Regions from separate parts of the Homo sapiens genome. Here region 2 is linked to region 1. The links come from fine-mapping of genetic effects on gene expression. A gene starts in region 1. The other region holds a variant in brackets. All regions are shown on one strand. Distances are from middle to middle. Region 1 holds the start of ZC3H7B (zinc finger CCCH-type containing 7B). Region 2 overlaps ZC3H7B (zinc finger CCCH-type containing 7B).

Region 1 (5,367 bases):
GCCTGGGCGACAGAGCGAGACTCCGTCTCAAAAAAGTAAAATAAAATAAAATAAAATAAATGAAAAGTAACTTGCTAAGGTGGCCCAGGACTCTGGGAAAGGGTGACGATTTGGAGCCAGAAAACTGGGTGGGAATCCTACCTCTGCTGTCTGACTTTCCAGCAAGACACACAATTCGGCCTAAGGTTTCTTATCTAGAAAATGTCTACCTGACACAGTTGCTATGGAGGACAGATGAGCCAACACATGTGAAAGCCCTTTTGTTATAAACTAAAAAGTGATATTTGAGGGATTATTATTTTCAGATTGAGGGATTATTTTCAGATTCTCTATCCATGTCTCAACCGACATCTCAGCTTTCCTACTAAGACTCGAGAGATCAGCACATCCCACCAAGCTTCTAAGCCCCACAATAATCTACCAAAACCCCCATTCCTGTCTAACCTATACAAAAGCCAGCAGCTAAGAACACACAGCATCTACAGAACAGAAACTTTATCCCAGCTCAGGGACAACAAAGTCTCTCTCCCATCCTCAGATCTCATCCCTCCTGGACAGGTTCTTTCTTCCCACCTTAAGTCTCCCCACTTCTCAAACATGCTCCATCCAACTGTTGACCAGGTGTCATTTCCACCTTGCAGTCCAACTTCTGTGGGAGGTGGACACGGGGAAAGAAGACCACCACGGAGGGGATGGCTGTATGTGTGTAGAGGAAGTATTGGTAGTAGAACTAAAGATTCTGCCAGCATTTTGTGTCCAACACAGTTGCTACATGTACTATAATTATCTCATTTGTGTGAAAATTCAAGGATCTGCATTCTGCTATTTTCATCAGGCTGAACTGCAGATGCTGAGGAATATGGCAAGAAGTTGGGGTTCAAAGTCTGATGCCAAAGCTAGCAACCCGAGAAATAAAACCGCTGATCACCAGCTCCCCACTCAGGCCCAGCCCCCTTTTAGAGCCCCCAGACTCCCCACGCAGGGCCCTAGCCCCCTAGTCTTCCCCGTCAATGCCCTGTTGGCAATACAGCCATCAGGTTCTATCAGAGTGAGCTGTTTTTATATGATTATTTTCCCCCCTGGGAAGACGGCTTTGTCTGTGAAAGTCCCCCCAACCAGGCGCCTTATAAACGCCTAAAACAGACAGAGTTGAGGAGAAAGGAGGGGAAAGGAGGAGGGAGCAAACCCGGAGGGGGGCCCTGAGGTTCGCAGCGGGCAGGATGGGGGTATGAGGCCGGAGTCGGCGGCTCCCAGGCCCCCAGCCCCGTCAGGGCGCCCCCGTCCCCAGGCGCCAGAGCCGGGGTCCGCAGCCCCCTAGCACTCCCTGGACGGCCGCGGGCCTCCCACAGGCCTCGAAGTCCAGAGACTGATCCTGCGACCGGAAACGCCCCCCTGCCCAGCAGGCCCAGACCGCGCCCCCCTTTCCTGCCGCCCCCTTCCCGCGGGCCCGGCTGCAGGCCCCGGATCCCCGGGCTCGCGTGGCCGCCGCAGCCGAAAGGGGCGGCCCGTCGGGCGGCCCCGCTCCCCGGCCCTCGCCGCGGCCCCTCCAACTCCGGGTGCTGCGGGGCCAAGGACAACACAAAAGGAAGGGGGGCCCTGCCAGCGACGCCCCTGCCAGCCCCCGAGACCCCCTGCGCGGGGTCGGCAAAGCATCTGGACACCCCAGAAGCTCCGGACGCCGAAGAGAGAGGCCCCACGAAAATTTCAAGACACCTCCTGGGGGCTGCAGGGGCGGCCAAGTCTCCCCAGCGCCAGGTGCCCCCGGCCACACGGTAACTTTTAAACTTTGGGGCAGGGCACGGGGACCGGGATCCCCAAAAAGGAGCAAATGGGGTTTTAGAGACGATTTATTTTTTGCAAAATCCCACTTTCCAGGTGGCCCGGCGCGCGGCCCCGGCCTGGAAAGGGCTCTCTTCGCCTCTTCCCCAGCCCTGCCCGGCCCGGGCGTCCCCGAACCCTCGCGCGCGGGCGGCTCCGGACGCAGTGTCCCCGGCCTCTGCCCCGCGGGGCTCGGGCCGCGCCAAGCACTCACCTCCGCCGGGCTGCGCTCCCCGCGGGCCTGCGCCGAGCCCGATAAATGGTATGCTATGACTAGAGGTATGATTACGTTATTATTATTAGTAATAATAAGAGTAAATGCTATTTAATTACGGGCGGCCGCATCCTGCTCCCGGCGCCGCCGCCCCGGCAGCTCCGTCCATGTGGCTCTGGAGCGCTTTACTTTCATTTCCAGCCCCTCGGCTGGCCGCTCGCGGCAGCACCCGCTGGAGGCACTGTCTCCCTGCAGCTCTTCCTCCTCGGGTCCTAGAGAGCTCGGCTCCCGTCGCCTCGCCGCGCCCGGGGTGGGCGGCGCGGGCTGCGCACCTGGGGAGAAGGGCGGGGGGCGTGGGGGCGAGTCGGGGAAGCCCCATTCCCCGTCGAAAGCTCATGCCTGGAATTCACCTTTATTTTCTTTAAAAGTGTCCTGCCTTTTAGGGGGGTTTCTTTTGGCAGTTCTGCATTTCTGGGCTGATGCTGCTCAAACCCAGCGCCTCCGCCCTTCCCCATCTGTGTCAAAAGTCCCCCCGCCCCCCTTCTCCGGCTTCCAGGTGCTTTCATGGAAGGCTGCCCAAAACCCTGGTTGCGTTGTGCCCTTCTCATAGATGGGAACCGGAGACACATAGAAGAATCAGGACCTCACTTGGCTGGAGTTTTATGTATAGGATGTTAAAAAAAATATTGAATGACACTTGTTAAAGACTACAAGGCCGACTTTATTGGCATCATGATGGGTGTAGGGACCACTGCAGTGGGTTTTGCGGTCAGGGAGAGTATTTGGGCTCAATTCAGAAATCAGCATGGGCAACTGGGAATTTATGAGGAAGGAGAAAGGATCCACTGATTGAGCGCCAGTGCATAGGAAACTGCATCAGAGATGAGAGGATTCTCGCTTAAACCCATCTAACAAGATTCTTGCTGAAGGCAGGGCAAGGTGATCAGACATCACCTGGGGAATGGTGGAAAATGAGGAACCTGATTAGATATTGACAATCAGGGCTGGGTGCAGTGGCTCACGCCTGTAATCTCAGCACTTTGGGAGGCCAAGACGGGTGGATCACCTGAGGTCAGGAGTTCAAGACCAGACTAGCCAACGTGGTGAAACCCCATCTCTACAAAAATACAAAAATTAGCCAGGCGTGGTGGTGGGTGCCTGTAATCCCAGCTACTCAGGAGGCTGAGGCAGGAGAATCACTTGAACCCCAGAGGTGGAGGTTGCAGTGAGCCAAGATCATGCCATTGCACTCCAGCCTGGGCAACAAGAGCAAAACTGTCTCCAGAAATATATGTGTGTGTGTGTGTGTGTGTGTGTGTGTGTGTGTGTGTGTGTGTGTGTGTGAGTTCCCAATACCCCCTAGGCAATTTACAATGAAACACCCTTGACAACTTATCACATTTACCACCATGGTTATTATCACTCTCATTTCATCGATGAGGATGCTGAGGCCAGTTGGATTGCTGCATTTTGCCTCAAGTGAACTAGATGGCAAATGGTCTGGTGATTCCACCACCCCAGGTTGCTGGTGAAATAATGAACACATATTCTTGAAGAGGACTGTCCATCATTCAAGGGGGATTCAGCAGGACACCAGCCTCTTATCTCTTCAAGTTGGTACCAACTTGTTCAATTGTTTGGGCTGCCTAAGATGGTAAAGGGGTCTTTATTACAAGACCCCAACCAGAGGTGAGGATGCTTTGGAGAAAAGGGCCAGGAGGAGGCCGGGCGCGGTAGCTCACGCCTATAATCCCAGCACTTTGGGAGGTTGAGGCGGGCGGATCATGAGGTCAGGAGATCGAGACCATCCTGGCTAACACGGTGAAACCCCATCTCTACTAAAAATACAAAAAATAAGCTGGGCGTGGTGTCGGGAGCCTGTAGTCCCAGCTACACAGGAGGCTGAGACAGGAGAATGGCGTGAATCCGGGAGGCGTAGCTTGCAGTGAGCCGGGATCATGCCACTGCACTCCAGCCTGGGCGACAGAGTGAGACTCTGTCTCAAAAAAAGAAAGAAAAAGAAAAGGGCCAGGAGGCTGGCATCGGTAGGCTTTCTGGGAAGCCCCATGTTGTCAGTCCCATGTTGTCACAGTGTGCTCTATGTCCCCATGTTAAAGCTGAAATAGCAGTAACAGCCACCGCTTCTTTACTATGAGCCAAACACTTTGCATATGTTGATTCTTTTACCCTCTCAAAAACCCTGTAGCTCGGCACGGTGGCTCACATCTGAAATCCTAGCACTTTGGGACGCCAAGGTAGGTGGATCACCTAAGGTTAGGAGTTCGAGACCAGCACGGCTAACGTAGTGAAACCCTGTCTCTACAAAAAAATACAAAAATTAGGCCGGGCGCGGTGGCTCAGGCCTGTAATCCTAGCACTTTGGGAGGCCGAGGCGGGTGGATCACAAGGTCAGGAGATCGAGACCATCCCAGCTAACACGGTGAAACCCCATCTCTACTAAAAATACAAAAAATTAGCCAGGCATGGTGGCGGGCGCCTGTAGTCCCAGCTACTCGGGAGGCTGAGGCAGGAGAATGGCTTGAACCTGGGAAGTAGAGGTTACAGTGAGCCGAGATCGTGCCACTGCATTCCAGCCTGGGCGACAGAGCGAGACTCCATCTCAAAAAAAAAAAAATTCATATGTTGAATCTCTAATCCCTGATTTGATGGTATTAGGAGGTGGGGCCTTTGGGAGATAATTAGGTCATGAAAATGAAGCCCTGATGAATGGAATTAGTGCTCTTATAAGAGACACTGGGGAGATTATCTCTCTCTGCCAGGTGAGGATACAGCAAGAAAGCAGCCATCTATAAACCAGGAAGGCGGCCCTCACCAACAACCTGACCATGCTGGGACCCTGGTCGTGGACTTCCAGCCCCCAGATCAGTGAGAAATAAATTTCTACTGCTTAAGCCATCCAGTCCATGGTATCTGTCATAGCAGCCTGAGGTGACTAAGATGGGGGTAATGTGAGTACTGTACTCGATGGGGTACACCCAAAATCCCAACACTAGGAGGCCGAGGTGGGCAGATCGCTTGAGCCCAGGAGTTTGAGACCAGCCTGGGCAACATGACAAAACCCTAACTCTGCAAAAAATACAAAAAATTGGCCGGGCGTGGTGGCTAATGCCCGTAATCCCAGCACTTTGGGAGGCCGAGGCCGGGCGTGGTGGCTCACCCCTGTAATCCCAGAATTTTGGGAGGCCAAGGTGGGCGGATCACCTGAGGTCAGGAGCTTGAGACCAGCCTGACCAACATGTTGAAACCCCATCTCTACGAAAAATACAAAAATGAGCCAGGTGTGGTGGCACGCACCTGTAATCCCAGCTCCTCAG
Region 2 (5,367 bases), 42 kb before region 1:
AAATACAAGGCCCGCTTCTGCACTCCACACCTGCAGAGTACAGTAATCACTCCTACCCCACTCACCCCACAGGATTGCTTTTGTAGAAGTATACAAGTCTCTAAATAAATAGAAGGGATTTTTTTTTTGAGATGGAGTTTTGCTCTTGTTGCCCATGCTGGAGTGCAATGGCACGATTTCAGCTCACTGCAACCTCCGCCTCCTGGATTCAAGTGATTCTCCTGCCTCAGCCTCCCGAGTAGCTGGGATTACAGGCACCCGCCACCACGCCCGGCTAATTTTGTATTTTTAGTAAAGACAGGGTTTCTCCATGTTGGTCAGGCTGGTCTCAAACTCCCGACCTCAGGTGATCCACCCCCCTCGGCCTCCCAAAGTGCTGGGATTACAGGCATGAGCCACTGTGACTGGCAAATATAAGGGATTTAAAAATAATTATTCACCAGGAAAAGAACACTGCATGGTTAAGAGCATGTAATTTGGCGTCAGACAGAATTGGGCTAGGATTCCTCATTACTCCCCGAGCCTCAGCTGTCTTTGCTATGAATGGAGGAGACTGGGTTGTTGGAATCAAGTGAGATAATACATAAAGCTGGCGGGGGCGCTGGACATGGTGGCTCATGCCTGTAATCCTAGGACTTTGGGAGGCTGAGGCAGGAGAATTGCTTGAGGCAAGGACTTCAAGACCAGGCTGGGCAACAAATTAAGAACCCTATCTCTACAAAAAAGTTAAAAATTAAAGAATAAGCTGGGTGTGGTGGCATGTGCCTGTAGTCTCAGCTACTCAAGAGGCTGAGGCAAGAAGATGGCTTAAGCCCAGGAGGTTGAAGCTGCAGTGAGCTATAACAGCACCACTCACTCTGGCCTGGGCAACAGAGCAAGACCCTGTCTCATAAAACAAAAACAAACCAAAACAAAATTTCTGGGGGCTGGGCCATCTGGAGAGAGGAAAGGTGGCTCAGAACCTGGAGCTCTGCTGTTTCCTGGGGGTGGGACCTGTTTTTCTTTCTCCTCCTCCCACTCTAAGTCTGCCTTGTCCCATCTCTCTGCCAGGCTCTTGGCGCACAAGGACAAACAGGCCACAGACCTGGAGGAGTGGGGCAGATCCCTGGGTGGGAGTGGGGGTGATTGCAAGGGGAAGCACCGCAGAGAAGGGCTTCCCAAGATTCAGGCGGTGCTTGAAGGAGGAGCAGAGGGTGACTAGGCTCAAAGGGCACAGCGTGTGTGACGGAATCAGGGAGGGTCAGTGCATTTGGGGAATGGTTAGGGCAGAGGGGTGAGGGGGTGGATACGGGCACGTGTAGGTCTTGTTGCAGAATGTGGACTTCATCCCACTGGCCACGGGCAGTGGCTGATGGAGGCCTTTGACCCAAGAGTGACATGTCCTTAGACCAGCCTGGCTGCTGGGAGGACAAGGAGCAAGTTCAGGAGGCCTGGGCGGGCCACTGCTAGGGGCCAGGTTGGGGGAGAGGCAGAGCCGTGGGTGCACTCTCAAAGCCTCCGTTTCCTCCTCCAGAGCTGTGAGGCTGCATGCTGGTGAAATGAAAGGGCTACACTGGGAAGGCCTTAGCAATTCGTGACTATTCACATATCGCCGTACAGCGGGACCAAGGCGCTTGGCTGGGACCAGAAAGAAGCTAGTCAGGGACATGATGGATGTCCATTAAATACCAACCAGGCTGATGTGAGCCAGAAATGAGGACAGTGACAACAGAAGAGTGACAGAGAGCTCAAGTGGATGGAGCCCTCACCATGCGCCAGTCCTAAATGCTTCATGTGGCTGCTGGGCACACTGCCCCGCGGCCCCTCAGGGCCCTACAGTGGTAAGAGAAGCCAGCCCCCTATGAGTCATGTAGGCTCCTGACACTCCAGAGCACAGGCCAGTGACGGGCTCGGTCTCCAGCTGAATGTCCCAAATGTGTCCCACCTGCCTCTGGAAGCTGCTAAGGGAAGAAGACGCTCATTCTGATGTGGAATTCATCCTGCACGGGCCCCAGGAGCCTAGGCCGTGGCTTTCTCCTCCCGTGCAGCTGTGAGGCCCACCCCTGTTCTGTCTACCTGTGATGGGGAGTAGAGCAGCGGCTGGGGGTGGAGGGGCTGGGCCCCAGCTGTGCTGCCTGCCCCGCTGCAGCCCACCCACCTTTGCACAGGTAGTAGGAGCCCACGAAGCTGGTCTTAGTGGGCCGGGGCCGGATCCGCTTCCAGGTCTGGTCCTCCGAGCTCCGGAGCCGGCCGAGCAGGATGTCCCGCTTGCACTTGTGCTCAAGGCCCTCACGGTAGGTGTAGTCGCCAGCCCGGGGGCCTATGGGCAGGGTGGACACACATGATAATTCCGGAAGCAGAATTGAAG[A/G]GTGATGGCTGGCAGGCCCATGCGGTGGGTAGGAATCGGCCCCCTCCTTATATACCTACCTCCCCTCTGAGGGCCTCCTGCCAGCTCCCACCACACCCTTCCTGGCTACTTGCTCCCTGGAGACCGGGGGACTGTGCTGGGGGAAGCCCCTCGAAGGAGCCCATTCTTGGCACCCATCCCCCCTCCTTTTTTTTGAGACAGAGTCTCACTCAGTCACCCAGGCTGGAGTGCAGTAGTGTGATCCCAACTCACTGCAACCTCTGCCTTCCGGGTTCAAGCAATTCTCCTGCCTCAGCCTCCCGAGTAGCTGGGACTATAAGCGAGCACCACCAAGCCTGGCTACTTTTTGTATTTTTAGTAGAGACAGGATTTCACCATGTTGGCCAGGCTGATCTCAAACTCCTGACCTCAAGTGATCTGCCTGCCTCAGCCTCACAAAATGCTGGGATTACAGGTGTGAGCCACCGCATCCGGCCTACCCATCCTTTTTCTACCACCGTCCTCACTCTCTAGTGAGTCTGACCATGTTAGTGTTTCTCTAGAAAGGACTGTGAAGGTGGTGCCTGGCAGGGACAGACCCCAAACTCCTGCCCCTTTCCTTTTCTGCCCCAGAGGGGCTTCTGATTTCTGGCACTTATCTCCAACTGAGACACTGGGATTCTTTTGATCTGGGATCCCATGTTCCTGAGATTCCCAGTTCTCTGGGCAGAGGGGTGGAGTCTACAGGTGAAAGTTTACCTGTCTTGGGGTAGCAGAGCTGGCAGGCCTGCTTGAACTCGTGGGTGGCAGCCAAGGGGTTCTTGATGAGCAAGGCAGTGTTGGGCATGCAGGGCTCTGGCTGTGACAGGAGGAAGGAGGCCATTGTGGGCACTGGATGATGGCTGAGGCCACTGGGGCCAGCCAGGGCACCAGAAGTGGGGAGTGCTCTATGACCCCCCTATCCTACCCAAGAGCAAAACCACAGCCCAGGACCCTTCCTCTTCCTCCACCCTCCCAGCCAGGGGAGTTCTTTGTAATGTGGTCCAAGAGTCTAAAATATCAGGACCACCTTGGTCCCAGCATATGGTCCCAGGCTAGTGGGTGACCTGGGTCTTGGCTCTGAGCCTTTCTTTGAAGGCAAGTTGAATGTGAAAGCATAGAAATGGGAGGGGCCGTGATTGCAGCCTGTGCTCATGCCCTCCCCCAATCCCCCAAGTCATCAGCAGATGGGGAGGAAGGCAAGACTCAGAGAGGTTAGGGAAATTCCCCAGGACCACACAGCTAGTGTAGGTCAGAGTGTAGCAAGCTCTTTTTTTTTTTTTTTTGAGATGGAGTTTTGCTCTTGTTGCCCAGGCTAGAGTGCAATGGCGTGCTCTCAGCTCACCGCAACCTCCACCTCCCAGGTTCAAGCGATTCTCCTGCCTCAGCCTCCTGAGTACCTGGGATTACAGGTGTCCGCCACTACACCCAGCTAATTTTTGTATTTTTAATAGAGACGGGGTATCACCATGTTGGCCAGGCTGGTCTCGAACTCCTGACCTTGTGATCTGCACACCTCGGCCTCCCAAAGTGCTGGGATTATAGGCATGAGCCACCACGCCTGGCCCCTCATCAGATGTTCTTTTATTATTATTTTCTTTTTTTTGAGACGGAGTCTCGCTCTGTCGCCCAGGCTGGAATGCAGTGGCGCGATCTCGGCTCACTGCAAACTCTGCCTCCCGGGTTCATGCCATTCTTCTGCCTCAGCCTCGCGAGTAGCTGGGACTACAGGTGCCCACCACCACACCCGGCTAATTTTTTGTATTTTTAGTAGAGACGGGGTTTCACTGTGTTAGCCAGGATGGTCTCAATCTCCTGACCTTGTGATCCGCCCAACTCGGCCTCCCAAAGTGCTGGGATTACAGGCATGAGCCACCGCGCCCGGCCCAGATGCTCTTTTAAACTCAGGACCGGACTGAGTCTGGAGACCAGGGATGCTACTAACACTGGGGAAGTCACTTCACTCTCTGAGACTTGAATTCTTCCATCAGACAAGGGCAGTGGTGCCCTCTGTGTGCCCGCCCAGCATATGGCTTGGTGAGGAAGGGCACGAGGTGATCATCTTTGATCCATCCACTCTGGGAGTGCCCCGCCGTGGGGAATGCAGTGCCTTACCCCATGCAGAGGGCTCATTCCCCAACTCTAGAACCCACAACCCCCAGCAGGGAATGAGAGGCCTGGATCCCCACTCAAGTCACTCACCGAGGGGGCTGGTTTCTGAGCACCGCTAGGGGGACGGTGGTCCTGTGAGTTGGTCTCCTCTGGGCAGGGAGAAGACACAGGGGTCAGTGGCTCTGGCTCTGAGGCGTGAGGGGCCTTCCTAGGGCTTCCCCTTATGTATTGCTGACTCGGAGAAGCCCCCAGGCCACACATCCTCTCCTACTCCTGCTGAACCCCTGACTCTATCCTCTCCTCTCCACTCCCCAGGGGCAAAGACGCCTCCCAGCCTGAGTGTGTCCACTCTTTGCTTAAACTTGCCAGGGCTTCCCGCTGCCCGTAGGAGAAAGCCCAAGTTCCTTAGCTTGCTCCCAGGTCCTCGGAGACCAAGGCCCCCACCCCAGCTGCTCCGCTCATCAGCCAGCCCCGCGCCATGCCATGCCAGGCTAGTGCCCCTGCTTCCTCTGCCTGGCAGGTGAACTTTTCCTTCAAGACCCTGCCTAGTCATCACTTCCTCCAGGAAGCCTCCTTTGGCCCTGAGGCTGAGTGAAGTCCCCTCCGTGCCCCGACAGTCCCGTTAAGCCCTCTCAGTCGAGTGCCCTGGGCTGTGTCCGACTGCCGAAAGCTAGCCCCACCAGCGCCCAGACAAGACGGCTTCCTCCCTGGGTCCCTGGCACCCAGCCCAGAGTGGTGCAGTGGGAGGCCATGACCTTGTGCTCCGCCCCCAGCCTCAGGATCATCCCATGGGATCTCACCAGCCTGGTGACCCAGGGTCCCGGGAGGCTGGGCAGGGAGCACCAGACTGGGAGTCTAGAGGCCTGGACTGTCGCAGCTCTCCTCTGCTT

What was found. PIP is the estimated chance that this variant, and not a neighbour inherited with it, causes the effect. A credible set is the group of variants that fine-mapping cannot tell apart.
Region 2: its variant is the best candidate, but not a certain one, in a credible set for the expression of ZC3H7B in whole blood (INTERVAL, PIP 0.63).

The regions. Positions count from the first base shown.
Region 1 is chr22:41,298,438-41,303,804 of GRCh38, reverse strand. It overlaps ZC3H7B (zinc finger CCCH-type containing 7B), which reads right to left and starts at 2,280. Exons shown (of 23, transcript NM_017590.6): 1 at 2,033-2,280. It also overlaps a transcript of RANGAP1 not described here. RefSeq lists silencers at 1,904-1,973, 2,254-2,593 and an enhancer at 1,671-2,172.
Region 2 is chr22:41,340,347-41,345,713 of GRCh38, reverse strand. It overlaps ZC3H7B (zinc finger CCCH-type containing 7B), which reads right to left. Exons shown (of 23, transcript NM_017590.6): 11 at 4,568-4,626; 12 at 3,086-3,185; 13 at 2,138-2,299. Among named protein-coding and RNA genes, the nearest start is that of TEF, 39 kb to the left of the region's middle. The variant A/G (reference allele first, on the strand shown) is at 2,348.